Linked DNA regions of Homo sapiens: regions 1, 3 and 4 are each linked to region 2. The links come from fine-mapping of genetic effects on plasma protein levels. A gene starts in region 2. Each other region holds a variant in brackets. All regions are shown on one strand. Distances are from middle to middle.

Region 1 (8,084 bases), 58 kb after region 2:
TGAGAATGGATTAGGGAATTTTGATTGCCTGGGAGCATGAAGGGTTCATTTGAGATTCATGGCCAACAGTTAAAAGGGAGACAGTTGTTCTTTTGTGAGACATTCTCACCTTTTTTGAGACAGTTGTGTGAGCTTGTGTGTTTTCCCCTAGCCACTAGCAGCCGTACCATTCAGGCACACAGGAAGCAGGGTTTTATTACGTCAAGTGAGCATATTGAAACCAAAGAAGAGCCAGATGTGGTGGCTCATCCCTACAATCCCATCACTTTGGGAGACCATGGAGAGAAGATTGCTTGAGGCCAAGAGTTCAAGACCAGCCTGGGCAACATAGCGAGACCCTGTCTCTACAAAAAAATTAAAAATTAGCCAGGTGTGGTAGTGCATGACTGTAGTCTCAGTGTCTCAGGAGGCTGAGGTGGGAGGACTCCTTAAACCCAGGAGTTTGGGGCTACAGTAAGCTGTCATTATGCCACTGTACTCCAGCGTGGGCAACAGAGTGCGACCCCGTCTAAAAGAAAGAGAGAGAGAGAGAGAGGAAGGAACAGAAGGAGGGAGGGAAGAAGGGAAGGGAAGGAAGGAAGGAAGGAAAATAACAGGCATGCAGGAAAAAAAAATCATATTTTCAGAGGATAGATGATGACAGTGAGGACAACACAGGACACCAAAACGGAGGCAAGCCACCAAGGACCGGGAAAAGAGACCTGAAAGGCTTAGGGCCACTTAAGGCAAACTCGAGACAACTTCGTAAATTGCTGGAAAAAAATTCTACATAAATTGTATCACAATTATGTGGCAGAGCAGGTAAAGTTCATCTAGGTCCAACCTAGGTGTTCAGTGTTTTCCAAAACCTCTCCTCGGGGGTCTCTGTCAAGCCTTTTGGGGTCAGCCCTGCCCCACACAACCGGCCTCTGCTTGGCCCTATGAGAAGGCCAAATTCTCCCTTTTAGGTCTTCTTCAGTCCTACTCAGATCTGACACACTCACCTGCAGTGGCCCCAGGATTCTTCTCTGCTGTCCTGACTTCTCCCCCAACTAGGTGCTCAGGTGCTTTTTTTGCTTTCATCCCTGCTTCCGTGCATTTTTATTCTGTGAATTTTTATTTCTGTGATTTTTTTTTTTTTGAGACAGAGGCTCGCTCTGTCACGCAGGCTGGAGTGCGGTGGCGTGATCTAGGCTCACTGCAACCTCTGCCTCCCAGGTTCAAATGATTCTTCTGCCTCAGCTTGCTGAATAGCTGGGACTACAGGTGCCCGCCATGACGCCCGGCTAATTTTGTATTTTTAGTAGAGACGGGGTTTCACCGTGTTAGCCAAGATGATCTCAATCTCCCGACCTCATGATCCGCCCGCCTCGGCCTCCCAAAGTGCTGGGATTATAGGCATGAGCCATAGCGCCCGGCCCTATTTCTGTGGATTTTTATTCTAGCCATCCTCTTTTATTTTTTCTGTTAAAAACCTTAAGTTCTTCTTGCTTTCTGTCTAAGAGAGATCAAGAAACATTTTCATTTTATCCATGAATAGGCAGATGCCCAGAAAAACCTGAGCATATTATGCCAAAAATATTTCACACTCAGTCCTTAAGCAATGAAGACAAAAGAAATGATTTGTTTCCACATTAAACCTAAAGGGAGATAGATACACAATGCAAACAGCCCATTTGGAGATGAGGCAGAACACAATGGTTACAATCAGAATGAGCTCCTTCCTGGCAGCTGCAGGTCTTCTGTGTTCTTTGTAGTCCCTTATAGAGGAAGAGAGATTTTTTTTAAAACAGATGCTTCCATTCAGGAAACTAGGTCCATCAGAGACTTTCCCTGTAGGTTTTGCTCTGGGGGGGGGGGGTTCCCCCGTTGTGGTTCCTGTTACCACAACTTCATCTCCCTCAATATGTCCAGTCTCTGCTTTTCTCTGGTTCAAGGGTGGACATACCCAAAATCAATTTCCTCTTAGGACAAATGAGAGAAGCTGGATCTTTCCAATGTGTCTTTTTATGATTGTAAGAGAAAATAAAAAAGGATGTGAGTACAAAACGTAGCAAGAGGGAAATCTTGGTAGTGATGGAATTGTTTCGTATCTTGACTGCAGAGGTGCTCACATGAGTCTCCAATGTAGTAAAATAACACAAAACTGCCCTTGCACATTGTACCAACATGAGTTTCCTGGTTTAGATATTGTACTGTAGTTACCTAAGATGTAGCCATTAGGGGAAATAGCGCCTCTCTGTACTAACTTTGCAACTTCTTGTGAATATGTCAAAAGAAAAAGGGTTTTGTTAAATCATTATTTTAAAAACCATGGCAGAGTTTGTGGATCTGATCAAGATTAAATAAAGCTGTGTTGTGTCCGTGTGTGTGTGTGTGTGTGTGTGTGTGTGTGTGTGTGTGTGTGTGAGACGGAATCTCACTCTGCTGCCCAGGCTGGAATGCAGTGGTGCCATCTCGGCTCACTGCAATACCAGGTTCAAGCGATTCTCCTGCCTCAGCCTCCCGAGTAGCTGGGATTACAAGCACCTGCCACCACACCTGGCTAATTTTTGTATTTTTAGTAGAGACAAGGTTTCACTGTGTTGGTCAGGCTGCTCTCAAACTCCTGACCTCATGTGATCCATCCTCCCTGGCCTCCCAAAGTGCTGGGATTACAGGTGTGAGTCACCACGCCTCACATCATATTTTCAATTTTTAAAATAATAACCAATATGCAGGAAAAAAGTCACATTTCCACTGAATATGTTTCTGATTCTAGCAGTCACTGTAAAGGAAACTTTAGAGTCCCAGGATCCCTTCTAGCCCCTTCTGGGCTGGTCCAGTTTCAAGTAGGTTCAAGCCCTCTTGACCACCGGACATTGTCTTTCCTCCCTGGCATGAGTTGCTGACCCACCAGTCCATTTTCTTCTGACCAAAGAAAAGTGACAATTCACCTTCTTCAAAAAGCTAACTCTTTTCCTGAGTTTCAGATGAAGCGGACATATGTTCCCAAGTAACTTGCAAGGTACTACGATGGATACCCTTTAAACACAATGAATGACTTTCTAGCCCCTCTAGGACCTGATGACAAGCTCTTCCCAGCTCTGAAGTCTCTGATCATGATTCATTTAGGTCTTCTCCCTGCCATTCACCCAGAGAAATGACCTTGCAGCACAGTCAACGATGCAAAGCCCATTCCCGTCATGCCGTACAAGGTGGCAGCAAAGAGGGAAATTCTTCACCAATACCTCAGCCCATCAGCAAGGGCAGAACCCAAATAGACTGGTGATTCTCCGAGAGGGATGAACTTCCTTTTTCTGTTACTTGTCAGATTCCAGGTTAATTTTTTGCTATTGCCCCAAGTATAAAAAAAGAAGAACAATATCCCTTTCACAGACCATGTTTCTAAATCTTAATATTCCTCCAATGCCTTTTTATCTCTAGAAGAATCCTCCTCTCACGGAAACACTCTCACCCAGGGCACACTGTCAACTCCATTGCTCCTGCAATGACAGGAAGGGTGAGGAGGTGGCTATGAGGCATACAGTTCAGGAGTGACACAGTGACTTTATGCTGCTTGGTTGACCATATAATCCTCCCAGGGACTCCCTGTTGTAATTCCCTTCAATTCTTCAGGCCCTTCAATTAGAGTTCCTCTGGTTACCTCATCACGTTTACCCTGCGGTCTAAGGTCAACTGTTGAATTTAGCCCTCTTGGTCTATGGAATATCAAAGTCCATTCTTGATGGGCCCAAACCAACCTTTTTTGGCTTCTAGTAAAAACTGCCCTCCTGAAAGCCACGTGTCACATCAAATAGGTCAGATTCCCCCTCAGCTCTTCCTCTCAGACCTCCGCTTTCCTAAGACGCCCTGTTAGGGCAACCGCTGTCCTAAGATAGTTGTCCTGTCCTCAGTTTTTAAAATGCTAAGTCTCTATTCTGTAGTCATTTCTCATCACTAATCATTCTTTTGGAAGAGGAATCTTTTCTTTTCCTTCCCCTAGAAAATAGAAGGGAGAGTTTTGGGGTCCATCCTTACCGAGATTTTCTGCTATGTCATCTTGGTACAGAGTTCAGTCTAATGAAAACATTGTCACAAATTGATTAAAACCACCAGGAAAGCAGACAAGAGCATGCTCAATTTCTTTAGTTTTTCTTTTTTGTTGTCATAATATTGCATGATACAATGAGTATTAGAGGAAAATTAACTTTCCGTTCACATATTGAAACAATTTCTACTTAAAGAAGATCTTAAACAGCCAACTCAAACTATTGTACATGGATTTCTGAATGAGGTGGGGTTTTTTTATTTTGCTTTGTTCCAGATAATGTCTCACTCTGGTTGCCCAGGCTGGAGTACAGTGGCATGATCACTGCAACCTTGACCTCCTGGGCTCAAGCGATCCTCCCAACTCAGCCTCCTGAGTAGCTGGGACTAAGGCACGCACCATCATGCCTAGCTAATTTTTATTTTTTATTTTTGTAGAGACAGGGTCTCCCTATGTTGCTCACACTGGTCTTGAATCCCTGGGCTCAAGCAATCCTCCCACCC[C/T]TGCCTCCCAAAGTGTTGGGATCACAGGTGTGAGCCACGCACCACATGACATTTAATGAGCTTCTTTTTTTTCTTATTTTTCTTTTCTTCTTTTTTTTTTTTTTTTTTTTTTGGCCAGGTAAATATTAATGAGTTTCAAAAGCAGAATGTGATGCCTTACACTGGCGATCTTCATACTAACCCACAATATTCAGTAAATCTCATTTGGAAGAGAGAAGAAAAGCTGAATTCCCTGTTTTCGTGACAATTAAATTAAATATTAGTTGCTGGATGCCCAATTTCAGTGACATAACAGCCTTCTCATCCCATTCCCCTTCTATAATTCTGAGGGTTTGGTGTGGAATGAGGTAAGTCACACAAAATTTGCTTATAAACATCCTTTATTGTACATAGACAGTGGATACTGAGAATGATCAAGTAAATGGAATTTTGAACAGGTAAAGAGGAAACAAAGAATTAAGGTATCCCTGTGGAATAGTGCAAGAAAGGAGTGCCCCACCCATAGTGTTATCTACAATAGGTACTCCGGGGAAAGGACCCCAAGGAGTCAGACCACAAATGTATGACCAGCACAATTCTATGATCAAACTCTACCTCTAGCAAGGCGTCTCAACAATCAAGTTCTATTTAAATCATTCGCTCGTGTCTTCTTTCAGTCATGATGAAATAATGAGAATATCATAAGGAACAGAAGGTAATGCATTGGTCACCACCCTTGGAGAGGCTGGTGGGATGTATCTGGATTAGTCCTCACGGGGGGTGCTATTTTCCTGCATAGTCTTCATTATCCAGTCAACATAGTTCTTTACCCGTGTGTAGAGCCCATAGGTCCCACACTGGGGCCCCCAGGACACCAGGCCAGCTGCGTAGAATTTGGTCTTGTCATTGGGATCCTGTACAGCAAAGGCCCCACCACTGTCCCCTTTACAGCTATCCATGCCCTTCTCTCCTCCAGCACAGATCATGTTAGGAGTGAAAACATAGGCCTCTGCATCTGCTGTGGGTTTCTCCACTTTCACTTCTTTGCATTTTCTTAAAGGAGCTACAGGTAACCTTGCCGCCTTGAGGCGAACAGCACGATCTCTCTTCTCTGTTCGGCCCCAGCCTGAGATCAGTCCCAGGTCCCCATCCATGAGGTTGTAGTCGGAAGAGGTGCCTGGTAGGCAGATGGGAGAGACGGTGGGTCCCATTTTCACTGGGTCTTTCAGCCGCACCAGTGCAATGTCATTATCAAAATTGGTTCGTCCTTCTGGGACTTCCAGCAGCTTCCATCCCGGATGAATAAACACATGCTCAGGAGTGAGCATCTTGGATTTTGCCAGCCGTGAGGTCTGCACTGAGGTGGACCCAACATACATTGTTGGCTCCCTGTTTCCCTCCACAACATGAGCAGCCGTCAGCACCCAGTACTCATTAATGAGCGCTCCACCAGCCCATGGGTTGTCAAAGAAGACTTGCCAGGGGAAGTTTTTAATATCTGCATCGGATCCTCCAATTATCCTCTGTTTTTCTTCAAAGGGTTCTCTGGGGACTCCACAGACTAGGAAGGAATAAAACAACACAGGGAAGGAGGAAGAAATGATGCTGGCTTCCTGCAAATCCTCCAACCACTCACATAATGTTACCTGCTAGGTTGCAGGATTCTCTAGTACAAAATAGTCAACCCTATTTGGTCAACAATCTCAATACCTGACCCACTCTGGCCTTACCTAAACATCCCGCTTTGCCGATGTCATAAGCTGGCTCATGGGAGAGCTCAGTTAAACGGAGGCAGTGTGTGAATCACTGAGTCCAGATGCACTAATGCCTCACACTATCCACAGTGCGACCCACAGCCCCCCTGGAGGCAGGGGTCCCCTTTGCACCTCCCAACTCGGCACATGAGGCCGGTGCCCAATCAAGAGCCAGTGCTGGAAACCCTTTTCTCACACAGATGGTGGAGGAGGAAAGATTTCTGCCTTCTTCAGATGCCCAGATCAAACTTTAATCACCTTCTTTACTGGAGTCCTAGTTGCACCTGAGTCCCTCCTAGTAAACCACAGGTCAGCCTAGGAAGTAGAGAGGGGTCCCTTCTTTGGCCCTGACCTCTCACTCCCAGTGACTGGTGCCATTACCATTCAGTTATACTAATAACTGAATTCAAGTGAAGCTGCTTACTTAAATCCCTTACTAGACAGCCTGGAGGGACTCCAAGTTGAGCACAATGGGCTGTGAACTTAGACAGACCTGGGCTCAAAGCCTGCCTTTGCCACTTGCTAACTCTGTGAACTTGCACCCCACCCATTCACATTTGACATTGGTCAGATAAGACCAATGACACCTAGCTCACAGGGCTGTTATACGGACACGAATGAGATAATAAATGCAACAAATCAGCTCAGTCTTCAGCTTTCAGTACCACCCAGGATGGTTATTATCCTATTGGATTTGCCTCAGCCTTCTGCTACCCAACTCTTATCTTCCTCATTCTTTGAATTCCTCTATATCTTGCTGCCCTATAAACTTTTAATATAATAACTAGGCTATTTAGCTAGACTTGTTTCTGAGTGTTGATTACTCACACACTCTCAGCTTTCAGGCCCTGTTTTTAGCAGTTCTGTATCTTCTCACTGCAGCTACATTACCAGACACCAACTGTCGCTGGCTGACGTTTCTATTTCCTTCCAGTTGGCCTGGCTTCAGTGCGGCTGAGGAGGTTCCCCACGGCCCTGGCAGCCCACGGCACAGTGATACTGCCACCTCACTGAGCTGGACTCTGGCAGGTCACTGTTCAGTCCTTTCCCAAGAGGATTACAGTTGCTTTCAGAAGGTGACTCCCAGTCACCCATGGCTATCATCTCTCCCCAAGCCTCAGCCCTCCTTACCTGGAACACATTTCGGCAGCTCCGGGCCCAGCACCTCATTCACCCAGCTCCCGTTACCAGCACAGTGATACTCCCCTGGAATAGCACAGAGAACACAGGCCACACTCACCACCACATCTTCCTTCTTCCATTCCCCCCTCCGACCCCAACACCCTGCCCCGTTCCTTCAGAACCTCAGCTCGTCTAGGATTCAAGTAGTAAATCAGATTAAATCAGCCAGAAAAAAAATATCTTCCTCCAAACAATCCCTCAGGCCTCTAGCCTGCCAGGGAGACAAAGGGAACATCTCCAAAGCAGAAGGAAAGAAGGCATCGGGAAAGTGGCGAAATAAATACAGAGCAATGCAGAGAACGTATTAGGGTCTCATTCAGCCCTGCACCTAGCATGACCAAAGCCTCTACATCAAGAAAGCCAGTCAGTGTAGTTTGGTGGCTTAAAGCTGAAGGCATTGCTCCTGTGGGTTTTACATGAAATAACTGGTCAAAAGGTGGGTAATCCCATGAAATGGATGTTGTAGGGGAATTCCTGCTGCAGCTGTGAACTCAGTTGGTGACCTCTATGATTCCCTGAGGCTGATGCTCCCCTGAACTTGCCCTGCTCCAGATGAAAACTGTATCTTTGGACGAAGCCAAGGGGATGAACAATGTCTGTCCTATCGCCTTCATTTGTCTCCAAACTCTGTCTCTGGCACAGATTATGCTATCCACC
Region 2 (8,099 bases):
GTTTCTGTCACCTTGCCTGAAAGTCCCTAAATCCTAGGAACAGCAGGGGATGGGGCTCCCTAAGTCCTAGGAACAGCAGCGGGTGGGGGTGGATATTCGATGACCGCACGGACAGAGGATGGTGGGCTTGGGAGCAGGGAGGAGGACCCTGCAACACATGGGGCAGGAGACAAGGACTTCCTCACTTGTGGGACTTCTTGGTGTTGGCCCCGTCGGGGCCCTCGCCACAGTCATAGGCCTGGATGGTGAAGGTGTGTTCCTTCTGGGCCTCGCAGTCCACAGGCTCCTTGGCCCGGATCAGCCCCTCTCCTGTCGCCTTGTCAAGGATCACAGCCTCAAAGGGCACCCCAGACCCATGGAGCCGGAAGCCGCAGATCTCACCTGGCAAAGGGGAGAAGGGGAGGAGTGAGGCTGCTGTGTCTCCTTCCCCACCCTCAGTCTCCCCACCTGGGGTCCAGCTCCACCTCTCCTCCCAAAGCCCTGTCCCTTCTCCTGTAGGCACAAAAGCATTAATGATCAAACACGCAACTCTAAGCCCAGCTTCCCTGAGCAGCAACCTCCCAGAGCCTCCAGACCTGAGATCTGACAAAATCATGATGTGTTTAACCCTTGCCTGGCCATGTCCTTTTCTGGCATCCTTGACTCAATCTCCATTCTTCAGTGGAGACCATTCCCCTCCTTGAGCCCACTTTTATCTTCCCTTACTTTCTCATCACTCCCAGGACCTTCCCTCCCTCCCTTGCTCTTGGCCCTCCCACCCACTTTTCTCTGTCCTACCCTGCCTTGCCATCCCCCAATCCCAATTACCTGCATAGCGCAGCGGGGCATCCTTGTCCAAGGCAAAGAGTGGTGGATTCAGTAGGACCGTGTTGTCATTCTCCATGACGATGCCCTGGTACTCTGCCTCAATCCATGGCTTGTGCTTGTTGGCTGGCCCCACCCCAGGGAGAGGAGAGGAAGCACCTGTGAGCAGGGCCTCTACTCCCACAACAACCCTTGTTGACCCAGACAACTCACACCCCAGCACCATCACCTTTTCCACCCCCTATAGGAGCACCTTACAGGAGGCGGGTGGTTGAGGACAAGAAATCAGCTACTAAAGGAGTCAGAGGGTCTGCGGGAGGTCATAGCCTTCTCCTATAGCAGGGTAGACAGTTCCCATGGAAACAACCTGCCCTGGGGGTGAAGAGGAGGGGATCACTATCTCCATGGGAACCATGGTCAGGAAGTGGAGAATGTTCTTTAGCGATTTCACGTGCTAGAGAATGGAGACAGGGAACTTCAGGGAGCAGTGGTGGGCTGTGAGAAGGCCCTGGGAAAGGGAAGGGATAGATTAAGGGCAGAATTGAAACTAGAAAAAGATCTAGAAGTTTCCTGAGATCCTGATTGCTTATCCTCCTCCCAACTCATTTCAGTCCTGATCCCTTCACTCTGCACTTCTCCCAGCCAAGCCCCAACTTGAGGCCACTCTCCCAGAACACAGGATGGGGAGAAAGGAGAGAAGTGAAGATATATAGGACAGAGGGAGGGGGCAGAGAGGGGCAGGAATGGAGCAGAGGAATCAATGCTGAGCAACTGGACCCAGCAGAGCCGTCATCCTAAGGGATTATCGGGCTGGCCTAGAAACATGACAAATCCCGTCCCTGCTTCCCACCCCCACACCCAAGAGAACACATTCGAAACCGACACATTTCTATGTCCTCCACAAGACCATCAAACCACATTCCCTGAAACCCACTTTTTATACAGAACTCAATCCCAGTTCTTATCTACCCCATCCCTCTTCCCTTCAACCACCAGCCAATTCAGAATGGATGCGGGACTCATCAGACTCCAAATCTCCCCATCTTCTACCAGATTCAGCCTGGTGAGGGGCTGTGGGGAAGCATATTTCCTCCCCTTCCACATCACCCCCCACCCCAGCCTCCACGCTTGCTCTAATCCCATCATCATGCCAACACCCAGGCTCCCAAAGCACAATCATGAGGCAGAGGGAAACTGAGTCACCAAAAGGAACCTCATCCCCAGTATCTCACGGTGAGCAAGAAACCCTGATTTCCATTCTTTCCTCCAACCACACACCAGCAAGCCTTTGGCATGGGAAGGCTTTCTTACTGATGACCACCATAACCCCTTCCTGAATGCTGAGGAGAAAGCCACAAGATGGTGCACAGGAGGCGGTACAGGAAGTGGCAGGAGGCTAGGAGGCGAGGCTGAGGTCAGAGATGCAGGCAAGGAAGAGAGAGCGGTGGAAGGGCAGGGCTGGGCGCCCTCTGCACAGCTCCCCCTCCCACCCTGCTTGTCTTCCCAGGTCTCTGAGCCTCTGTCTCCTCTCCTCCTGGCCCCCTGCGGTCTCTGCGTTTGCTCCCTTTCACTCCTAGGCTCCCGGGCTCCTCCTTGACTCACTCTTTTCCTGATTTTCCTCATTCCTCCCTCTTTTTTCTGCCTCCACCTTTACCCTTTTCCATCCCCTCCTTACCCCCTCCCACGCCTCATCTCCGGTCTTCTCCTTCTCAGCTTTCCCTCTCATACTCATTTAGCGCCCCCCACACACCCACTTCTGCCCTTTCCTGCCAGTCTCCATCCGTTTCCACCTACCTGAGCCCTCTGCCCGCAAGCCCTCCCTCCCGTCCTCCCTCTCCGTCTGTCCGACAGCCCCGCCCAGCTGAATGTATCCGCTGTCTGCCAGAGAGGGCAGCTCTGGTAACCCACAGCCCAGCTGATGCAGGCAAAAGGGTCTGAATGCAGAGGCACACGCAAAAAACATACGTGCTCCGAATTGCTGAACTGCAGCAAATACTTTCTCCCCAGGATGGGATGGAGGCGAAGCAGATGGATCTGCCACACACCCTTAGCATGCGCCAGTGAAAGGGAGAGCCGCGGGGAGAGGCCTATCACCGGCTCGGGGGCAGTCCTTCCCAGACCCGAGGTAGCCACCAGCGTGTAGAAATTAGGGGAAGGGGAGAATAGAGACCCCAGGACGGGAATGGAGACCAAATGGGAGCAAGATGACCAGCAAGAGAAACGCATGGGTAGAGATGGACCAGAAAGGAAGATGTAGCTGGGGGAAGAGAAAGAGAGGAGACGGAGCAGGTCTGAGAACGGATGGGAAGGAGGGTGATCAGAAGAGGGCCAGACACCTGTCAGGTGCCAGGGAGCCTCGACACCTCCTTCCCACCCCCACCCCGCACGGCGCTGCCCGACGCCCCTCTTTCGGTACCCCCACCCCCACCTCACTCACCTTTGTTACAGGAGCAGGACGCGAGCAGAGAGGCCAGCAGAAGGGGCAGCAGCAGGAGGGTCATGGTGCGGCGTGGGGCAGGGCAGGGCCAGGCGTTTGCCTCCCCTGGGAGCCTCCAGCCTGCGGATTCCACCTTGCGGGAGGGATACAGGGGGTCTCCAAGGAGCGGGGTACAGCAGGGCAGGGACGGAAAGGAGCCTGCCGCCCACACTAGTCCATAAAGCGGGCCTGGGCAGATCCCAATCTGGGTAGCTGAGGCGGTGGACTTGCAGCGGCTTCCCGTTTCCCCCAGCCCAGCGTCCTCACTCTCTCACTCCCACCCCAACCCCGCTACTGCAGGATGACGTCAGCACAGCCGGGCAACGATTGATGGGGCCGCCGGCCAATCAGGTGACTGGGAGGGGGGGGGACCAGGTGCTGCAGCGGGGGAGGGAGCCAATGAGACTGGGGCGTCGGGGCTGGAGAGTTTCAAGGCTCCTTCCCCTGGCTGCAATTTTGGGGGAGCCGAGGAACTGCGGGGGCTGGGGAGGAAGCTGGAGAGCCACGGAGGGGGTGGGAAAGAAGAGGGACGTGGGGAGAAAGAAGCCAGAAGCCAGGGGGTGGGGAAGAGAGACGTCAGCGGGACCTGAGGGCGGCCAGGAGGGGTGGCACCGCGTCACCCCGCCCCCCAACTCTGCCATAACCTGTTTCCACAGCCCCTTCCATCCACAGATCCGTGCTGCGTGCCCTCTGGGAAGGGTGAAGTAAAACCCTCAGTCTGAGCCTGAGAAATCCTGGCATTTGTAGCCCAGGGCTGCGAGGAAGCCACAGGGCGGTCCGCAGGGCGGTATCGAGGCTCTGGGACCCAAGGAGGGGCAGGACGTCGTGCACCCCTCGCGCACGCACCTGTCGGGACCGGCCGCCTCCTCCTGCCTACCTGTCCTGCCTCCTTCGCCCCGAATTTCACCTTAAACCATGATGAACCAAGCCCAGTGGATTCTGAAGCCCGGGACGATGGCAGGTTCGAGAGAGAATTGGGCAGCTGGGGGCGGGGCACAATATTATTTAGGCGCCTCCACCCCACCTTCACAGAAATACATCTGGAAAGCATGGGCTGTCCTAGGGCTGGGGACTGGGGGTTACGGTCTCATCGATGACTCAGAGGGAGAGAAAACCCCCTGGGTCCCAAGCCAAAAAGAATAAAATTCTCCAGAATAGCCAACAAACTCCTCTCAGGCTGTCTGTTCCGGACTTTGAACTCAGCACCCCTCGGGCTCCACCTCCCTCCTAATGGCTCTTTAGGACCAAGAGTCTGGAATGCCACTTTGGGGTCCCAGTTGAGCACACTACCTGAGGGAGCTCTGAGAGCCAGGCCTACAGGGTGCTCTTCATGGTGGCAGCTGGCCATCCTCACCCCCTCCCCTCACATCTTCCAACATCACTCAGTCCCAGGATCTCAGGATATTGTTGGAACTCATCTCCACCTCACACAGCCAGACCAGCCTCAGGTGTCTCCCAGGAAAGACTGCCCCTCAGGCCCTGGGACGGTTCCCAAGCCTGCCAGAAATGAGGTGGAGGCCAACACTGACCTTTGGATGGCTGAGTTTTGGATGACTGACAGCCCCAGATCCTGCTCCAGGTTCCTTCCTCAGGAAGGATCCTGCTCCAGGTTCCTTCCTCAGGAAAAGCCAAGGTCAGGCGCAACTTTGCCAAATCCCTGCCCCTCCTTCAGGCTGGAGACACCACCCCCAAACTCACCATGCGGGGAGGGAAGAAGTCTGGTAGGGACTCTTATTGCAACAGGGCCCCAGCCTTATAAAAAGCCCTGGTAACCCGGCCATTACACATCCTGTCTCTGTGTGTGGAGCTGGCTGGAATCTCTCAGCCTCACCTGCCAGACAACACCCCCTCCTTCCTCACCCTGTCTCCTGCATTCTCCTGAAACCTTCATCCACACAATGCCTCCCAACCTCACTGGCTACTACCGCTTTGTCTCGCAGAAGAACATGGAGGACTACCTGCAAGCCCTAAGTAATGGCCTCGCCCTCCCAGACCCCTGTCACTCCCTTTCTCCCCTCTTCCTTCCTGCTTCTTGGTCCCATGGAGAAGAGGGAATGCCCGGGGTTGGACACTGTGGAAAGGCTCAGGCGGCTGGCACCAGACCTGGGATCCATTTCTAACCAGGCATTGGTAGGAGGGGGTGAATCCACAGTCCCAGACCCAAAGAAGGGAAACTCACAGCCCTGAGGGGCTGCTGCAGGCAGAGGAGCTCCTGGCTGGCTAGCAGCACCCCTACTAACAGGCAGCCCCCACAGACATCAGCTTGGCTGTGCGGAAGATCGCGCTGCTGCTGAAGCCGGACAAGGAGATCGAACACCAGGGCAACCACATGACGGTGAGGACGCTCAGCACCTTCCGAAACTACACTGTGCAGTTTGATGTGGGAGTGGAGTTTGAGGAGGACCTCAGGAGCGTGGACGGACGAAAATGCCAGGTACATTTCCCCTGGCTGGGCGGTGGCCGGAAGGAGGCATCACAGGAGACTCCTAACAACATGGGGCAAAACAAAGTGACCTTCCCCAGCCAGAGCAGCGGGGAGGAGGGGAATGGTCACCACAGCAGGGAATGCAGTCCCCAGGATACCAGTCTCCAGAACTAACAGGTCCTGGTGCTCCCTGTCTCTCTCCCACTTCTTCCCTGCCCCCTCTTATCACCAGCCCAAAGGGCAAAGAACAGGCCAACCCAGACCGAAGAGCAAACATTTGCCCACCCTCCAGCCTGTGACACTGTTGGTCACCCAGAGTCCCTTTTACTTTAGCATCAATAACTTCACTCTCCTGCATTTCTTTCTACTTCTTACATATTCCTTCTTAGCCTCCTTTGCAGATCCTAGTCCTCCTATTAATCCTTTAAACTGGAGTTTTCTCCGCAGAGTTTTGTTCTTAATGTCTTCTCCCTTTTGTCTGCCCACTATCCATAGGCTAAATCATCTACACCCATGCCTTCTGCTTCCATCTATAGGCTGCCCTTGGCATGAATTCTCCAGCCAGAGCCATCTCCTGAGCTCCAGGGCAATGTTTTCAACTGCCTACAAAATACAGTTGGCCCTCCATATTCATGGGTTCTGCATCCACAGCTTCAGCAAACTGCAAATGGAAAAATATTTGGGAAAAATAAAAATAAAAAATAACAATACAAAATGATACAAATAAAAAACAATACAGTATAGCAACTATTTACAGAGCATGTACATTGCATTAGGTATTATAAGTAATCTAGAGATGATTTAAAGCATATGGGAAAAGGCTGGGCGTGGTGGCTCACACCCATAATCCCAAGACTTTGGGAGGCTGAGGCAGGCAGATCACTTGAGGCCAGGAGTTCAAGACCAGCCTGGCCAACATGGTGAAACCTCATCTCTACTAAAAATACATAAATTAGGCCAGGTGCAGTGGCTCACACCTGTAATCCCAGTACTTTGGGAGGCCAAGGCGGGCGGATCACCTGAGGTCAAGAGTTCGAGACCAGCCTGACCAACATGGAGAAACCCCATCTCTACTAAAAATACAAAAAATTAGGCAGGCATGGTGGCGCATGCCTGTAATCCCAGCTACTCAGGAGGCTGAGGCAGAAGAATCACTTGAACCTGGGAGGCAGAGGTTGCAGTGAGCCAAGATCGCACCACTGCACTCCAGCCTGGGCAACAAGAGCGAAATTCTATCTCAAAAAAAAAAAAAAAAAAAAATACAAAAGTACAAAAATTAGCCGGGCATGGTGGCGCATGCCTGTAATCCCAGCTACTTGGGAGGCTGAGGCAGGAGAATTACTTGAACCCGGGAGCCAGAGGTTGCAGTGAGCCAAGATCATGCCATTGCATTCTAGTCTGGGTGACAGAGCAAGACTCTGTATCAAAATGATAATAATAAAGTACACAGGGGGATGTATGTAGTTTCTCTACAGATACTAAGCCATTTTATTCAGCAGATTTAGTGAGGTGGGGGTCCTGGAACCAATTTCCATTTGAATGCCAAGGTCAAATTCAAATTCACTGTCTTCCTATCCAAACCTACCCCACTTTTATATCTACTCTCTCCACTAATGGCAATAACCAGCCAGGCCAGAGACCTGGGAGTCATGGTCAATATCTCTTGTTTCCTTACCTCTAGGCTCCCAGCACACACACACACACACACACACACACACACACACACACACACACACACCACCACCACCACCACCACCACATCTAATCGGCCAAGAAATCTTTGTAGCTTTTCTGCATTACCCAGTATAGCAGCTGCTAACTTCAGATGGCCGTTGAATACTTGAAATATAACTAGTCCAAATCTAGATGCTGTAAGTGGACTTTCAGACAATGCCAAATAAAAAGAAGCATTTCGGAAATGTTTATATTGGCTGCATGCCGAAATAATAATATTTTGAATATTTTTGGTTAACTAAAATATATTATTTAAATTAATTTCCCCTATTTCTCTTTACTTTTCTAATATGGCTCCTGACCCATTTTATTTCTGTTGAGCATCACTCTTCTAAATGGCTCTCCTGTGTTCCCTCCTAACCTTTCTCTATCACCACCCTAATTCAGGCCTTCATTTCCTGGTGCCTGAAATTGCTTTTTTGTGTTTTTGTGTTTTTTTTTTTTTGGTAGAGGTGGGGTCTCACTGTGTTGCCCAGGCTGGTCTCAAACTCTTGACTTCAAGTGATTCTCCCGCCTCAGCCTCCCAAATGCTGAGATTACGGGCCTAAGCCACTGCACCCAGCTGGTTCTCACGCTTAACCCTCCTCTAATCTGCATGCTGTAGCCACAGGGTCTACTTAAAACATAAATGTGATCATGTCACTCTCTGACTTACACCCT
Region 3 (8,099 bases), 14 kb after region 2:
CCCAAGCTCCCTTCCCTCTGCCCTCACTTTACTCTGGCCACCAGGGAGAGGAGGCAGCTCTCAGAGCCTCTGTTCTGTTCCCCGTGGGCAGTGCCCAAGCAGAAGGTCACCAGCATAGCCAGGCCATTGGGTTCATGGACAAATCACTTGCCTCAGAGGCTCTAGAGGAACCTAAAATGCCACCCAAAATTGGGAGGCAGTGCTGCATAGTGGCCAGGCATGAAATGCCACCTATTACTAGCTGCAGGAGTATATACAAATCGCCAGCCTTCAGCAGATGAGCCACATTGGCCAGCCCACAAGGCAACACCAAGAGTATTTCCTTCCTGCTGGGAATTTTGTGAAGATTGCATGCACACTCAGCAGAGGACCTGGAGTGGAGTGCGCCCTGACAGATGCTGGCTATCATTACTTGCACTATTCCCTGCCTCTTCACCTGATGATTGAAATTCTCTTAACTAGAAGCAAAGCCTTGTGTTCTTCAGTTAAGGACAAGGCATCAAGTGCCACTACCCTTGAGGTTACACAGTGACATATTTACACCGAAGTGTAAGTGACACATACCAGAGAATGGGGGCTAGTGTAGCCATCATCTTGCTGTCCAGGCAGGTAAACCATCTGGGGGTGACAAGGATGAAGGGGAGTTGCCTCCCTAAGGGATCCATATCCAGAGTCTCTCATTGCACCCCACCCCCCATCCCCAGAGAAGGGTGCCTGGGCTCCCCGGGACAGCATTGCCCTCCAGAGCCCCTGCTGCAATAGCCACTCTAGCCTTCCCACCCATGGAGAGAAGGCTTCAATGCAGGAGAAAAGGGATGACGCAGGGACAGCTGCCCAGCCCAGTGCCACTGCAGTGATGGCTGCACAGTCATCAGCTCCATCCACCCCTACCCCCCAGCCCTTGGGACCCCCCCCCATCCCCCACAGTACGTACTGCTATCTCATTCAAGGTGCCGGGCACCAGCAGCAGAGGCCACATCCCAGACCTGGACTCCCCAGCCACCAGCTGCAGGTACTGCCACTCTCCCTTAACCCTCCCAGCTACTCCCCTCCTCCCTATGACAGCTGAATACAGGAACCAGCGCCCTCACCCTGCCCTGGAGCTTCCTCATGCTTCCCTCTTCTTGAGAGGCCTCCACCCTCCTGGCCCTGGTCTCCTGCAGGATATCTCACCATCTTTCTTCTTCCTCCTCCTCCTCCTCCTCTTCTTCTTCTTCTTCTAAAATGATTTTTAAAAACACTTCATGAATTTGCATATCATCCTTGCACAGGGGCCATGCTAATCTCTTCTGTATCCTTCCAATTTGAGTATATGTGCTGCTGAAGCGAGCATATCCCATCGCCTTTCTACACCAGCAGAGCTCCAGCTTCCCCTCCATTCATGCCTCAGTATGTGCCCACACCCCTGCCCTACAGATGAGTCATAGATGGAGGGTCTACCTCAATGTGAATGGAACAGTTTTTCTTCCACGCAAGTGTGCATATCCCACACGATTCTGTCTTGCATGCACTTCTTCAATGTACGGTGCGTGTGCCTATTGTCGTGTGGCCTCTCCATCCTCTGTTCTATAGAACTGCTGAGAGCCAGCATCTTCCTTTCCCTCTCTGTACACAGAACAACAGCGGTGGCATCTTCCTTGACCCAGGCAGGTGGCACAATGCAGAGCTAAAGGCACCGCTCGAGGAGTCGTGTAACCTCAGGCGAATTCTTTCACTTCTGTGTGCCTGTGCTCCCTCCCAGGCCTGGTCCCGATCCACCTTCTGTCTTGTCTTTCCCACCTGCTCCTCCTCTTGGATTCCTCTCCCTTCCCGGCTGTTTTCGGAAGAGGCTCGCTCATATCCTTGACCCAGCTGTAAGGAAACTATTGTCACCCTTAATGAAACTAAAGCTTATCCTGCTGGGTCCTCATTGGAGCAAGAACCCACAGGTGAAGGGGCAGCCAGGTGGCAAAGCCCCCACCCCAGCCTGTCTCCCCACCACTCCTTCTTTTCTGAGAAGCACAGGTGGGACAAGGTGGGCCTCTTGAATGAGGGTTTATTAAAGTCTTGGAGGAAACAAAAGGGAAACAGAACAGAGAGTTATACTCACCTTGATTATCTGAGGCACAAATGCAGCCTCAGCCATGAACATATTGAAGGAAGGGATAGTCCAGTATGTAACAGACGCACCCTGCTATTGGCAAGCAAAGCACAGATGGAGTGAATTTAAAGAGTCCTTTACTAAAGGACTTTGTTTCAGGACGAAAGTCCACACAGAGCCCACAGGGTGTGGGAGATCTGAGATCTGGAACTGGGATCTCTGGGCTCTGAACTTGTTCTGTTGGGCAATCTGCTGATGGAGACCTTGTCTTCGAGTGTCAGGATGCACACTGTGGTCAGCTCCCCCTAGGTTGCAAAGGGCATTCTATCTGGGACTTGTCTTCCCTGCCCATCTGCTCTCCTTTTCAACAGCTTCTTGGTTCTTTTGAAACCTATGCTGTCTTCCCAAAGCCCTACCTCCTATTGTGTTGGCCTCCTGTAAGCCATGCTTTCATCTGTCCAGTCCTGCTCTTGGTGGGATGAACGAGAGGCCTCTACAGATCTCAAGGTGGAGGAGGAGAGGGTCAGAGCCCCCAAAGGTACTCTGGATTTGGGTAAATGCACCTGAAATACAACCATACCCAGCAAAAATAACATCCTGCTAGCTGATCGTCTGCACTTATTGTACTAAAATAATACATCTACTTCTATGAGAACCAGCGTCCGAGACAGCCACCAACAATACCTGCTTCCCAGTATTCCTGTCCTTGTGATGTCTCCTTCCACATCGGGTTGTCTGTGTGACCAATGGAATAAGGCAGAAATGATGCTACGTCACTTCCAAGGCTGGCTTATAAAAGACACTGTCACCTCTGCCTTGTTCTTTCCACCTTGGGTCACTCTGGGGAAAGCCAGCTGCTATGCCGCGAGGACACTCAAGCGTCCTATGAGGAGGGCCATGTGGCAGGGAACTGAGGCCGCCTGCCCACATCCATGTGAGTGACCGTCTGGAAGCAGACCTCCAGCCCCAGTCCCGCCTCTGGAGGACTGCAGCCTGCACCTGGACCAAAGCCTTGTGAGAGACCCTGATCCTAAACTACCCATCTCAGCCGCTTCTGGATTCCTGACCCACAGAAACTGTGTGAAATAGTACATACTTGCTGTTTTAAACAAAATGTGGGGGTGACTTTTTACAAGCAGACAGATAACTGCAACATAGTCTCAACCTTGAATTTCATTGCAAATGACCCCATCCTGACCATAACCTCAATATTCGCTAAGTGGGCAGAAGAATGGGGTTGGGGGGTGGGGGCAGTAGATGACTTCGGGCAGTAAAAATGTGTCCAGTCACAAAAAGGCATGACTCCATCCTCAGTGCTCACAGCCCTCCCATCCTAGCTCTAAGCTAGACCCTTCCACGAGTCTAGAGAGTGAAGTTCAGAGGCAGGCAGCTGCCCCCTTTCCCTTCCTCTTTGAGGCCCACCCACCTGAGTCCTGTCTGAGGACTGCCTCTCCCCTAGGTAATTGTTAAAAGGAATGTCCAGCATCTTCAGATGGTACCCTGCTCGTTTCAAAGTTGTGTGACCTTACTCTGTGGCTTCAAAAGGACAAAGACATCAGAATACAACTCAATGCACCTCACGCCATTAGACAGCATGAGTGACAAGCCGCAGGGAGGATATATCAGACAGCACCAGATCTTAGCTGGTAGGAAGCTGATTGACAAGTTCTGTGGAGGACAGAGCAGCAGAGCCCTGAAGTCCACAGCAATAAGGGGAAGATGGTGTTCTAGACACACCAGCAGGGAAGAGCCAAACCTGGATGGTCAGTTTGACCTCCCAGGGTAAGGAGCCTCTGGGTCTTCTCTACCTCTCCCAGGACCACCACAGTGAAACTAGAGCCAGAGGGTTCTTTGCTGAAAAGAGGGTGAGTGAGGTGGAGAGATGCAGATGAGAGGAGGCTTTATGCAGAAGCCATCAGGTTGTGCCATATCTAAAGCCTGGAAAAAGGAGGATACCAGCTGATAGGATTTGGCTCTATGTCCCCAACCAAATCTCATGTGGAATTGTAATCCCCACGTGTTGGAGGAGGGGCCTGGTGAGAGGTGATTGGATCATGGGGGCAGTTTCTAATGGTTTAGTGCCATCCCCCTAGTGCTGTCTCCCGATGGAATTCTCATGAGATCTGGTTGTTTAAAAGTGTGTAGACTTCTCCCTTCTTCTCTTTCTCCTGCTGCCATGTGAAGAAGGTCCTTGCTTCCCCTTCGCCTTCTGCCATGATTATAAGCTTCCTGAGGCCTCCCAGTCATGCTTCCTGTTAAGCCCGCAGAACTGTGAGTCAATTAAACTTCTTCTCTTCATGAATTCCCCAGTCTCAGGTAGTTCTGTACAGCAGTGTGAGAATGGACGAATACAGCAGCGAAGGTGGTACAAGGGCTTTCTGTTCCACTGTGCTCTTCCTGAGTCAGAACCTTTGGGCAGTCCCCAGCCTGCCACCTAGGGACTTCTGCTGCCACCCAGGAGAAGCAGAATGCCCACCAGGCCCAGATCTGCTACCACTTCCAGAAGCCCTGTTACTAAATGATAGGCCCCAGGTGAGGACCAGCCAGGCCCTCTCCAGGGCAGGATCCTTCTCCTTCTACTCACAGAGCTGCTCTCTACAACCAGGTACCAACAGTGAGGAGGCGGTCACGTGGCAATGATCAGGCTTCTCACTAGAGAATAGTAAATGGGGCAGGGCCGTGTTCAGACCCTCAAACTCTACCCAACCCCATCTCCCAGATGCACCTGTCTACCACCTGCTTCTCTTCCTCCCTGCACACCTTGAAAACTCCAAAACCTG[G/A]TGCATACTCCCCACTCTGCCCCATCCCAAGAACTCACCCACAGACGCAGGTGGACACCTAGATGTGCTGAGTCCTAGGGCTGCCACAGCCTGCAGGACAAAATTCCTCCCTCAAGGAACCCACAGCCCTGTGGGAAAGACAGACACACGGGCAGGAGGTTATCATGCATCAAGAGTCCATGAGCACAGGGAAAGTCATTTTCTCTGAGTCAAAGAGGGCTTCCCAGAGGAGAGGACACGGGGAGAGAGGTGAGTAAAAATGGCCGGCATCCAGGGCATGAGTACTACATGCCGAACGCTGACTCTTCTCAGGAACCCAAGCACAGGTTATTGTCCCCATTCTACAGATAAGAAAACTAAGGAACAGAGAATTTTAAGTAATTTGCCAAAGGTTATACATGAAATAAAAGACAGAGATGGGATTTGAACCCAAACAGATTGGAGCCTGACCACCCAACCCTCAGTTTCTCCACCTCGCCCCTATTGACGTTCAGGACCAGGTAACATTTTGTTGTGGGACCTGCTGCCTTGTGCACTAGGATGCTTACCAGCATCACTGGCCTGTATCCACTAAATGCCAGTAATGGAAAAAAGAAATCTCTAGATATCATCAAATATCCCCTGGGGAGCAAAACTGCTCCTTGTTGAGTACCACTGATCTAACCATTTTGCTATTCTATTCTGCTTCCTAAGCAAGTAATGATATTTATTGTTTGCCAAATGACAGACACTGCCCTAAGCAATTCTGGTTATTAACTCATTTAACCCTCACACCAACCCTCTGGTGTGGGTACCGTTGTCCTCATCCTTGTTCTTCAGATGAGGATGTTAAGAGGCACAGAGAAATTATGTAAGCTGGCCTTGGTCACCAAACTTTTAAATGGTAGAGCCTGGGTTTAAACCTGGTGAGTGTGGCACACAAGCCCACTCCTTTAAGCAGCATGTTATGCTGATGACTGAAGAACACGGCATTGGTCGGGGAGTCACACATGCAAACGCAAGGCATGTTTGTGAAGCCATAGCATCATGACCGCGCCTGGAACACACATGCGAGGCGGCAGCGGTGGAGAGCGAAGCCAGAAAGTCATGCAGAGCCTGATTATGAAGGAAGAACCTGACGAGACAAACAAGTGGCTGGGGCTTCATCTCATGGATCAGGAGGCACAGTCATTGAAAAGTTTTAACCTGGGAAGGGGCACGATTGATTGAGATTTTAGATACTGGCAGAGTAGGGAGGATGGGCTTAAGGGCTAAACCTAGTGGCTGACACTCCATTGGGGTTGAGCTAGCGACTGCCTAGGTGTCCATAAGGCATGGAAGTCAAGGCCCTGACATGAAAGCCTGAGATAACTTGGGGGTGGAGGAGTGTGACCCATTAGGGTCACCCCTCTGCCCTGGGCTGTCCACATCTCCACTGGCCATGCCAGACAGAAGCAAAGGGTCCCAGTCTGGCTGACTCAGCCGCCTCATCACCCCTGCTGCTCTTCACCTCGCTCCTGTATCTCCCTCCTCACCTGGCACTGGGCACAAAAGCCCCCACGTGTCCCAGCCCAGGGCAAGGTATCTAGAGATAAGACAGGGAAGCTGTGGACAGAAATGGCTCGTGCTGCCCCAGACTCCTCTGCCTGGGCTCTCCTGTGGCTGTTTGGATTCCAGGAGAGGGCAAGCTCCTCTCTAAATGCTGGGGGCTCATGAAGGCTGCAGAGAAACTCCCTGGCCAGGAAGCCCCAAGGCACTTTCTGTTGTCCTGCCCTTCCCCTTTCAGGACAGAAGGGGGCAGCACCAACACGATTTTCAAAAATAAAACCAAAAATAAAGTCACTGGAGCACCCCAACCTTGTTTGCCCAGCTAAGATTGGAAAGACCCATGCCTGGCCTAAGTTTATATGCAAGGACAAAAACTTCTTCATTAATCATGTGGATTAAAGATGCCGATTAAAGGATCCATCCCCTCATTCTCTAATCCTGTCTGGCTCAGAAAGGACCATCTGGTCACAATTATAATTTCAGATACATTTATTTTGTAACTATCAAAGTTATTAAATAATATTAAAGAAGTTTTACTAAACAGAGAAACATGGTTTAAATCATCCACAACCCCATACTCTAATAGGAAGCAGTTATTTTAGATTTTTCTCACGGGTGCTTTCTATATTTGTAAACATAGTATCCTTACAATTTGGTAGCTTGCTACCTTTACTTAGCATGCCAGGAATCCCAGCTCCCTTACCTGCACTTGGGGGCCTTAACATAGAGCAGAGGTGGCCTATGCTCTTTAGGGACACTTGGGTAAGGGAAAGGGAACTGAAGTAAATGATTGAAGTGTTAGCAATAAGGTGACCAACTGTCCTGGCGTGTCGGGGAACTTAACTGGTTTTAGTGTTGAAAACCTCATGTCCTAGGAAAACCTCATTTCTAGACAGACCAGGATGATTTCTAATAGGTTACCCTATTAGAAAAAAGTCCCCCCAAATTCAGACATCCATTTTCATTTCTACATCGGCCTTTCAGCTATACTTCTTTGCTTTTTTCTACTAGTAGTCACCCTAGGGCAACTGTTCTCAAACTTTATACCCTTAAAAAATTATTGAGAACTCCAGAGAGCTTTGGCTTATGTAGGGTATATCTATTAATAGTCACTGTACTAGAAATCAAAATTGAGAACATTTTAAATCACAAAGATACACAAGCACGCATCCCGCTCACTGCCACGGATGAATCATTGCACATCACGTAGCCTCTGTAAATCCACCATATACCATGACAGAATGAGAGGGAAAAAAGCAAAGAACATCTGAGTATTTTTATGAAAGTCATTTTGTTACCTCACAGACCCCGTGAAAGGATCTTAGGGCCTGTGGGTCTTCCCACACCACAGGGTGGAGACCCGCTGCTCTGGGAATTAGTCTGCATCCTAAACTCCAGTTTTCTCAGTTCCTATTGTACCACTTCATGTGAAATGAAGGAAACTTGTAACCATGAGTCCACCCCCTTGTCCTCTATACCAGCAGTCCCCACCCTTTTTGGCACAAGGGACTGGCTTCATGGAAAACGGTTTTTCCACAAACCAGGGATGGGGCCAGAGGGAGATGGTTTCAGGATAGTTCAAACACATTACATTCATTGCATGTTTTCTTTCTATTATTATTGTTATTGTAATATATAATGAAATATTAATAATTATACAACTCACCGTAATGTAGAATCAGTGGGAGCCCTGAGCTTGTTTTCTTGCAACT
Region 4 (8,099 bases), 28 kb before region 2:
AGTGCATTTGTGTCCAGCTGCTCTGACGGCACAAAAGCGAGTTTCCAGGACTCTGGTTTGGTAACAGGAAGAAGGACACACTTTGTTCTTGAACTGGTGGTTAACCCAGTTGCCTCTAGAGCATCGCTTTTCCCCGAGGGCATGCTTTTCATCATGCACCTTTAGAGAAGCTAATTAATTGTCATTGCGGAGAGTAGACTTGAGAGGAAAACAGCCTTCCATTGCAGAAAGAACGGTTTGAGTGATGCCAAGGCAAATGTGTTTGCTGTTTCAAATGAAATTGGGAATAGGTGAATTGGAAACCCTGCCCCGGGCCTGATAGCCCCAGGCTTTGCCAGCTTCTTTGAGGGAGGTTAGGAAACATCTTTCCAGGAGATCTTGAGCAACAAAATAAAAACCCATGCAGAATCCTGCCTGCTGCCCTTTCCCTGCGTCACTGGAGCTGGCCTCCTGCCTCAAGCCTGATCCCTGTTTAGTGTGTGTGCGAGTGTGTGTGTCAGAGACAGGCAGAGATTGAGAGAGGGAGGGAAGTCAGCGAGTGACAGCAGAAGTTCAGGGCATGTGGTGGCACAAGGAATTCATGGTCTTCCCCAGGCCTCTGGTGCCCATGTATACCCCCACCCCAGGTAACATCTCGATGGGCCCAGTAGTCACATGGGGAGATGTGCTAACCATGGGCCAAGACTTGGGCATCAAACACTGAGGGTGAAGAGGAGGGCCGGGAAAGGTTACACCAGAAGAAATAATCAGAGGTGAGGGCTTCTGATTCTGGAGAGTTTCCAGGAATCTCAGGTAGAGTGGTTGCATTTAAGAGAAAAACCCATGTCCAGCCCCAGAGGCAGCTGATCCAGGAAGGCCAAGAGTCAGGCCGAGGCTGGGCAGACACTAAGAGAAGGACATATGCTACTTTGTGGCAGTCTGCAGGGGCGTGTGCATCAAGAGGGAAGCAGAGTTCATGGCAAGCTTGCCTTCTTACCCACAGCCCCTATCCCTGAGACTTGAGCTAGAAGTGAATAAGGACCCCCGAGCCTCAAGTGTCAAGGACACACACAAAAATAATAGAACCTGCTTGGCTTCTGCTCCTCTTCATGGGAAGCTGCATCTCCGAGACAGGGTAGGTGAGGACTAAGACGATGACAAGAAGGAGGAGGGGGCTGAACTTCACCCACTGAAATTCAGGACCACAAACTATTAATAAAAACTCTCAAGCCCCTTTGAGAGCCAAAGCTCTCAGATGTCTGAAGTCTGTGACCTTTTGAGCCTCTGGAAGACTCTAGGTAGACAGGCAAGGCGGTCTCCTATGCAGTATTGCCTCAGACCCCAGAACATCAGCTTGGCATCTAGGCAGACCTAGACTACAGGAGAGGCCACTACAGGGCGTCTGCTTGGCCATGCTCAGCCTTGGACCTCCCATGCCATGGGCCACCAACGGAGCTCTCCTCTCTCTTCCTACCAGTGAGTCTTCCCTGAGTCTGAGAGCCATACACATCACCTCAGTCACCACTGACTGAGCCCCTACTGTGTGCCAGGCCCTGTGCAAGTTGCTGGGGATACAGAGAATCTGTGGAGAGACAGACATGTCCCTCAGCTTTGTAGTCAATACCATCATGGAGGCGTGAATAAGGGCTCCCAGAGCACAGCAGAACTCCTGGTAGAGGCAACTCTTGAACCGGGTCTTCAGTGATAGTAGAAGACTGCCAGGCACACAATGGGTAAGGGACATGCCAGGCAGAGGGAACAGTACATGCAGACACAGAGGCGAGAAAGCAGGGTGTGTGTGGGAAGCATATGTGATTTCTGTGACCCCACCGCAGGGGTGCAGGGGTGGTGGCCGCAAAGAGGCCAGAGAAGGAGGAAGGCAGGACCTGCCCCACCTGGTTAAGGGGCTAAGGCGTCAGGACTTGACCTAGGCCTGACAAGGAGGTAGGAAAGTTGCTCTACCGGAGAGTGGTCCAACCAGAGTTGCACTTGAGAAAGGCCACTGAGATCCAGAGTTGAGGACGGGGTGGAGTAGAGCAAGGCATAGGAGACGAGGACAGGTGGAAGGCAGGTGCGAGGCAGGTGGGAGGCAGGTGGGAGGCAGGTGGGAGGACAGGTGGGAGGCAGGTGGGAGGAGAGGTGGGAGGCAGGTGGGAGGCAGGCGGGAGGACAGGTGGGAGGCAGGTGGGAGGAGAGGTGGGAGGACAGGTGGGAGGACAGGTGGGAGGCAGGTGGGAGGCAGGTGGGAGGCTCTTGCCACAGACCAGGCAAAAACACAGAGGGTACAGGTCAAGGCGGCGGCAGCAATAAGGGGAATAGAAAGCAAAAGACCTATTGGAGAGATTTTTAAGGGGTAAGAACGACAGGGTTTCATCACCATTTGGCCATGGGGTTGAGGGAGAGGGAGGAATCTAGACTGACTCTCAGATTTCTGGCATAGGCGAATGGGTGAAAGGTGATAGGGATAGGTCACAGAGAAGTCGGGGAAAGGTGGAGTCTGAGGCACAGGAAGGGCAGGTGGATATGCCAATAGGTAGTTGCAAATGTGAGTTAGGAGAGAGATTCAGGTGGGAGATAAAAATATGGAGGCATCAACATGCAACTGGGAGTTTGCGGCCATGGGCAAGGACAAGGCACCCGGTGGATGTCAGAACGGGCGTCAGGCGGAGCACCCACCTCCACCCCAACTGTGCTACAGGCAGCCGCAGAGAACCAGGAAGAGCCTAAGGATGCCCTACTCTGTCATGCTGCAGGAAGGAACTAAGACTTGGATCCCTGGTATTTCTTGGGCCAGGACAGCACCAGAGGGATGCTCCCACCAGCAGTTCACTCTTCTGAAATAACCCCTTGGGGTTATCATCCTTTATCACCTGGGGCTTAAGTAAGACCTGGGTCAGAGAACTAGTGGCCCAAAAGGCTGCAGAAGGGCCAGACTCTGCCTGCTGTCAGGCCAGGGGCTGGGCCCGAGTGGAGAGGGCGGAGGCCACTAAGCAGCCATGTGAGGCAGCCACAAGGACATGGGCAAGGCAGGCAGACATCCCCTGGGTCTGAGCCTTGGCTAGCAGGAAAGGGTCAGCCTGGGAACAGTCTCCAGATCCCTTTGGTACAAACAGCAGGGTTGCCTGCCTTCTCCCTGGGGCCGCCC[A/TCCCA]GCAGGGAGCCCATGTGCACAGGCAAAATGTTCCAAGTTGTGGGGCGGGGTTGGCAGCACCCCTGCAAGGCACTGGGCATCTGCCCAGGTGTCCATAGCATTCCCTGAATCTTCTGTACTTTTCCAGGGGGTGCTGAAGGAAGGGAGGCGTGGGAACCATCTGCCCCCAGCTTACTTTCCAGGTGATCTGGCATCCTGGGGACTTACCTGGTCAGGCCCCCAAGATCACCAGCCCTGCCCACCTCACTTCAGCTCTGTGCAGAGACCCAAACAGCCCCTGAGGCCCCAGAGCCTCCACCACACCCACACAGGACCAGGCAGTCAGGAGGCGCCTCACAGAGCTTTTTTTTTTTTTCTGATTGTTTTATTTGAAAACCCTAGGATATGTCCCCTCCCTCACCACACCCAACCCCCCGCCCCTGCCCCAGGACATGACGATGCCTCACACACACACACACACACACATACACACAAGGCCGTGAGCTGCACGCAGGAACATGGGCTGCACTCACGACAACATTGAAAAAATATACATTATATATGTACACCCGGGGCCCCCACGTCCCCTCCCGTCCCCGCAGCCTGGCCACACCAGGTCACGGAGGAGGGGCCGGGGCTGCAGGACCTCAGGACTGCAAGGGCAGGAAGGGAAACAGGACAAGAAAGGAAGGAAGTTGGAAAGGAGGGAGAAATGGGGTCCCCAGACTGAAATGGAAATGAGGTGGGGCGATCATAAGAGAAGCAGGGACGATGGTCCAGCTGAGGGAGCCCTGCAGAGGGGGAAAAGCTTCCCATGGACAGGAGAGAGAAGGGAAGGGGAGAGGAGAGGGTTTCCTTCAATCCCACCCCCAGCCCCAGCCCCAGCCATTGCAATCGTCACCCTCTCCCCAACACAGTGAGTGCTAAGGGGGCAGCTGCCATTGGGGGTAGAAAGGCAGCTGAAGTCCAGCCCACTTTCCAACCCAGCCAGCCCCAGTGCAAGGGGCACACCAGGAGCATGACAGCCCAGAAGTGAGGGATGGGGGGCCGGGGGAGGGGCAGGGCGGACTCCAGAGGGCCCGCTGGGGTTTTGAAATGAAAGGAGGACTGGTTCTGAAGCCTCTCTCCCTCTTGGTCTCTGTGTTCCCAGAAAGTCCTTCTCCCATGTCTGGAGTGTCTGTTTCACCAGGGCAGAATTCCCCCTCTGCGTGGGGAGAGGTGTAGGCCTTAGTAGCGGTGTGGGGGGGTCTCGATGATGCGTCTCTCGTCGCTGCTGGGGGAATCGGCCACCTCCGAGTCACTGCTGTCCTCATCCTCCTGCTGGCCCCCAACAGCCCCCGTCACACAGGACTGCCGATTCTGGTAGGACTGGAGGGCAGGAACAGAGAGGAGAAGGGATCAATGGCCTGCACACATCCCAGCCTCTCTTTCAGGGACCACACTTCCCTCGGTCCCCTTAACCCCTGTGTACCCCCTTCCCTGCCTGAACCTCTCTCCCTCCGGCTCACTGCAGCTCTGCGAACAGCCTCCACCCAGGCCTGCCCCTCCTCAGGAGTCCTCACCGTGTGTGCTCCACAGTCTTGACCCTACAGAACCCCGCTTCCCCAGGCCTCTCACCTCCATGGGGTTCACAATGATGGTGAGAGCTGAGTCATCCCAGAAGAGGTCTGGGTCCTTGGGGTCACTGGAGGCCCCTGGAGGCCCGCCGGCCCCTGAGACGCGGCGGTGAAGGGAATGGATGCGCACCAGGCCCAGGACGACCATGAGCACCAGGAAGCCCACGCACACCACAATGATGAGGGTTGCGGCGCTGGGTATCACTGCAGAGAGAGCGCGGGGGTGAGCAGAGCGTGACTAGGCACACCTGGGGGCACTTGGACAGGGGGCTGGGTAGGAAAAGAGGCAGCCCGGGCTGAAGGACTCCCAGGGCAGAACACACGGTGGCCGAGAAGAGAGGAACACCTGGAGAAGCCAGAAGAGAAACAGCCCACCAGGAAGGGCAGGAGACGAAAGGGGAGGAAGGGAGCTGCTGCAAGGCAAAGGAACAAACACAGAGGGAGGCAGGTGTACAGAGAGGCAAGGGCAGAGGAGGAAAAAGACTCCCTGCCCAACACTGTCATGAACAGCCCTATTCGCAGAGGACAGAGGGCAAGGACTGGAATCTGCCCCTGTCATTCCACCTGTGCCTTCCCCAGAGACCACTCAGCCTAGGAAAGAGGTGCCAGTGCCCAGTGAGGGAGAGGAGGGGCCCCCACACGGGCTTGGCTGAGCAGGAGGAGATGCAGGCTCCAGGCCTGGGCTGGCTGCAGGAAGAGGGCACTAGCACCTGAGGCTGGGGACAAGTCCAAGGGGCACAGAGCAGCCCCTTCCCTTACCCACCTGGACTGAGCTCACTCCGTGACACCTCCCTTCTCCTGGTGGGCTTGGGGCTCCGGGACGTCTGGGGTTCCTGCTTCCCCAACATCTCCCCCTGAGGCATACCTGCCTCCCCCGTGGCTCTCCCATGCTTCTGGCCCTGCAGCCCCACTTTGATGCCCAGGCTCAGAGGGGCATGGACCTTCAAGGGCACTGAGACACAGAACGGTGCGTTCACTCTCACACGGACCTTAGAGCTGATGGCGGCAAAGCAGATGTGCATGCACAGGTACATGCTCAGGAAGACCGTGTGGGCACACAGCTGCACAAAGGTTGCCACGCCCCACACCCGAGCCAGGCCTTTGCCAGCCTGCATGCTGGCCCACACCAGCCACCTGGCCGCCTGCTCACACTGCGGGAGTAAAGGAACGCGTCTGGGGGTCTCCAGCAAGGCACGGTAGAGCCATATGTGCAGCATCACCCAGCTCCCCACCAGCTGGGCAGACCAGGCAACCCCCTGAAGGAAGACATAGACACTACAGACGTGGGCCGTGAGGGCCACAGAGCGAGCCGCCATGAGCACAGCCCTGCCTGCCTCCTGCACACACACACACAGCTCTCGAAGAAGCACAAGGAAGAAAAGCAGGAAAGCCCGCAGCCCCAGGGACAGCAGGTGGAGGCAGAGACCCCACACACGCACCTCCAGGCCCAGGGCCCTTACGGGCAGCTGGGTCACTACTCCCCACATGGGTGCACACCCCTGCCCACCATGCATACACAGCAGCTCCTCCCTGGGCGGTCCCGTTGCTGAGGGACTATTCCATGTATGTGTGCCCCAAACACACACAGAGACCAGCAGTCACACAAGCAAGCCCCTAGAAAAATACACACATCGCATTCCAGCCCCGTCCGCAAATTACCTACAGCCTGAGACTCATGTGTCAACAGACAGAGCAGAGCGTAGGGAAGCGCATGGCCCAGGAGCTCCTCACACTCACACCCACACCCTGCTGCAGCGCCCCTCTCCCCAGCAGCCAGCACACTCAGCTGCCACGCACTCCAGGGCCAACTAGGTGTGTGGAGAATGCCCTGCCTGGGCAGGCCACACACCTCCCTGAGGCCACCCTGATGGCTGTCTGCCAAGTTGGTCCCCATCCTGACCCACAGCCCACTTGAGGCCACCAGCCAATTAGAACGGACTCTGCTGGGGCACACTCCCTCGACACTGGTTCCAAGGTGAAGACAGGACTGGCTGGATCAGTATTTCTCAACTTCCTGGGAACGGGGGATAAGGGAGGAGGGGACAGAGCTGTCTCTCCTGCCCATCTGCAGGAAATAGTGTCTCTCAGGTCTCCACGTCAACAGACCAGAGCCAGGGGCAGTGCCTTCACTGGCAGATGGGCCCAGTGGCTAAGCCCAGGCTCCAGAAGGGGTGGTGACCCCACCCTCAGAGTGGAGGCCAAAGCAGGTGAACTTCCTCTAAGCACACAACGATGACGAGCTAAAGCTGGTTTGCGCCCTAATCAATGCAGTGTCCCTCCGAGCTCCTGGCCTAATGAAGGAAATGACAAGTTGATTGCCAGGACAATAAGAAATGACCACAGGAAAGACAAAATGCAGACACTCTATCTACAAGCAAACAAGTCTGGTTAATTAGTTTAAGATGAGTCAGGAGCCCGGGGAGATGGGAGGATTTTTAAATCAGCTACAGATAAAAATCAAGAATTTAAGAAGTGCGTTCAGCTTTTCTTGCTACATGAGATCTGAGCAGTTAATTCTGGCCTTGAATGACCTCCAGAGCCAACATTAAGGGGTGACTTAGCAAATGGTCCATGGGATTGCGAGGACAGTGGAAAGCCCTGTCCATGGCCCCACACGGTGCTCTCTTTGCAAAGAGCCTTGGGAGAGATTTCTTTCTGCCCCCCGCACTCCCAGGGCTTTTCATGAAATAGCGTTTGGCTCCTATCACGGCTCTCAGAACTGCTCAGGTTTCCTTTTGCTTTAGCTTTGAAGAAGCTCAGGGTCAAAATTCTGGCCCGTGGTAGCAACTGCATAGCATCTCATAGTACGCATGTTATGAGCTGACTTTATTCCCTGGCTTCATTGGATCCTTATTTCATCATTACCTGTTCCTCCTTACTTCCTCATTCATTTTCTTTTTGTCCTATTGCTTTGTAACTCTTTCTGCAAAGCTTCAGATACTTGTAGGAAACAAAAGAGGAAAATTATTCCCAAACTTTTAAAGATTACATGGGATTTTTAAAAACCACTGACACGTGGCTCCCACCCCCTAGACATTCTAGGGTATAATTTAGGTGCCGAGAGTTTTTAAAGCTCCCCAGGTGATTCTGGCAGTCATCAAAATTTGATATGAGTAGATACATAATACCCTCATCATCCGGCTTGCTCTTCTCAACCAACCTTATTCTCTCTAACCATAAACACTCTTAACCACCTATCTACCCCCGGTTCTCAAATTCCCATTCTCTCTCACACCCATCCAAAAATCCCTTTTACAGTTCAGGTCCAAATGCAAACTCTACATGTGCCACAAAATCTCCCCTGACTGTTCCAGTTTACCCTGGTTCCAGTTCACATTCATCTCTCTTTCTCTAGTGCACTTAGGAGATTTAGAGCAATG

The links. PIP is the posterior inclusion probability: the model's chance that the variant is causal. Protein levels are from antibody-based Olink assays in UK Biobank. Linkage for the fine-mapping came from a reference panel and not from the study's own genotypes, which makes the PIPs less certain.
Region 1: its variant is fine-mapped to the plasma level of the CLSTN3 protein (UK Biobank, PIP above 0.99).
Region 3: its variant is fine-mapped to the plasma level of the CLSTN3 protein (UK Biobank, PIP above 0.99).
Region 4: its variant is fine-mapped to the plasma level of the CLSTN3 protein (UK Biobank, PIP 0.97).

The regions. Positions count from the first base shown.
Region 1 is chr12:7,067,823-7,075,906 of GRCh38, reverse strand. C1S (complement C1s) reads right to left here. Exons shown (of 12, transcript NM_001734.5): 11 at 7,377-7,451; 12 at 4,875-6,052. The coding sequence ends at 5,256. Among named protein-coding and RNA genes, the nearest start is that of C1S, 11 kb to the right of the region's middle. The variant C/T (reference allele first, on the strand shown) is at 4,513.
Region 2 is chr12:7,125,855-7,133,953 of GRCh38, reverse strand. CLSTN3 (calsyntenin 3) reads right to left here and starts at 3,583. Exons shown (of 18, transcript NM_014718.4): 1 at 3,242-3,583; 2 at 808-930; 3 at 186-381. The coding sequence starts at 3,305. RBP5 (retinol binding protein 5) reads left to right here and starts at 5,065. Exons shown (of 4, transcript NM_031491.4): 1 at 5,065-5,251; 2 at 5,536-5,714. The coding sequence starts at 5,179. RefSeq lists silencers at 2,567-2,636, 3,727-3,826 and an enhancer at 2,784-3,285.
Region 3 is chr12:7,112,019-7,120,117 of GRCh38, reverse strand. It overlaps C1RL-AS1 (C1RL antisense RNA 1), which reads right to left. Exons shown (of 12, transcript NR_026947.1): 6 at 8,054-8,099; 7 at 4,899-4,988; 8 at 1,441-4,732; 9 at 1,092-1,219; 10 at 565-618. It also overlaps a transcript of RBP5 not described here and the pseudogene RNU6-485P. Among named protein-coding and RNA genes, the nearest start is that of C1RL, 6.9 kb to the right of the region's middle. RefSeq lists an enhancer at 6,350-6,851. The variant G/A (reference allele first, on the strand shown) is at 4,861.
Region 4 is chr12:7,154,313-7,162,411 of GRCh38, reverse strand. CLSTN3 (calsyntenin 3) reads right to left here. Exons shown (of 18, transcript NM_014718.4): 17 at 4,721-4,923; 18 at 3,467-4,471. The coding sequence ends at 4,331. Among named protein-coding and RNA genes, the nearest start is that of CLSTN3, 28 kb to the right of the region's middle. The variant A/TCCCA (reference allele first, on the strand shown) is at 3,125.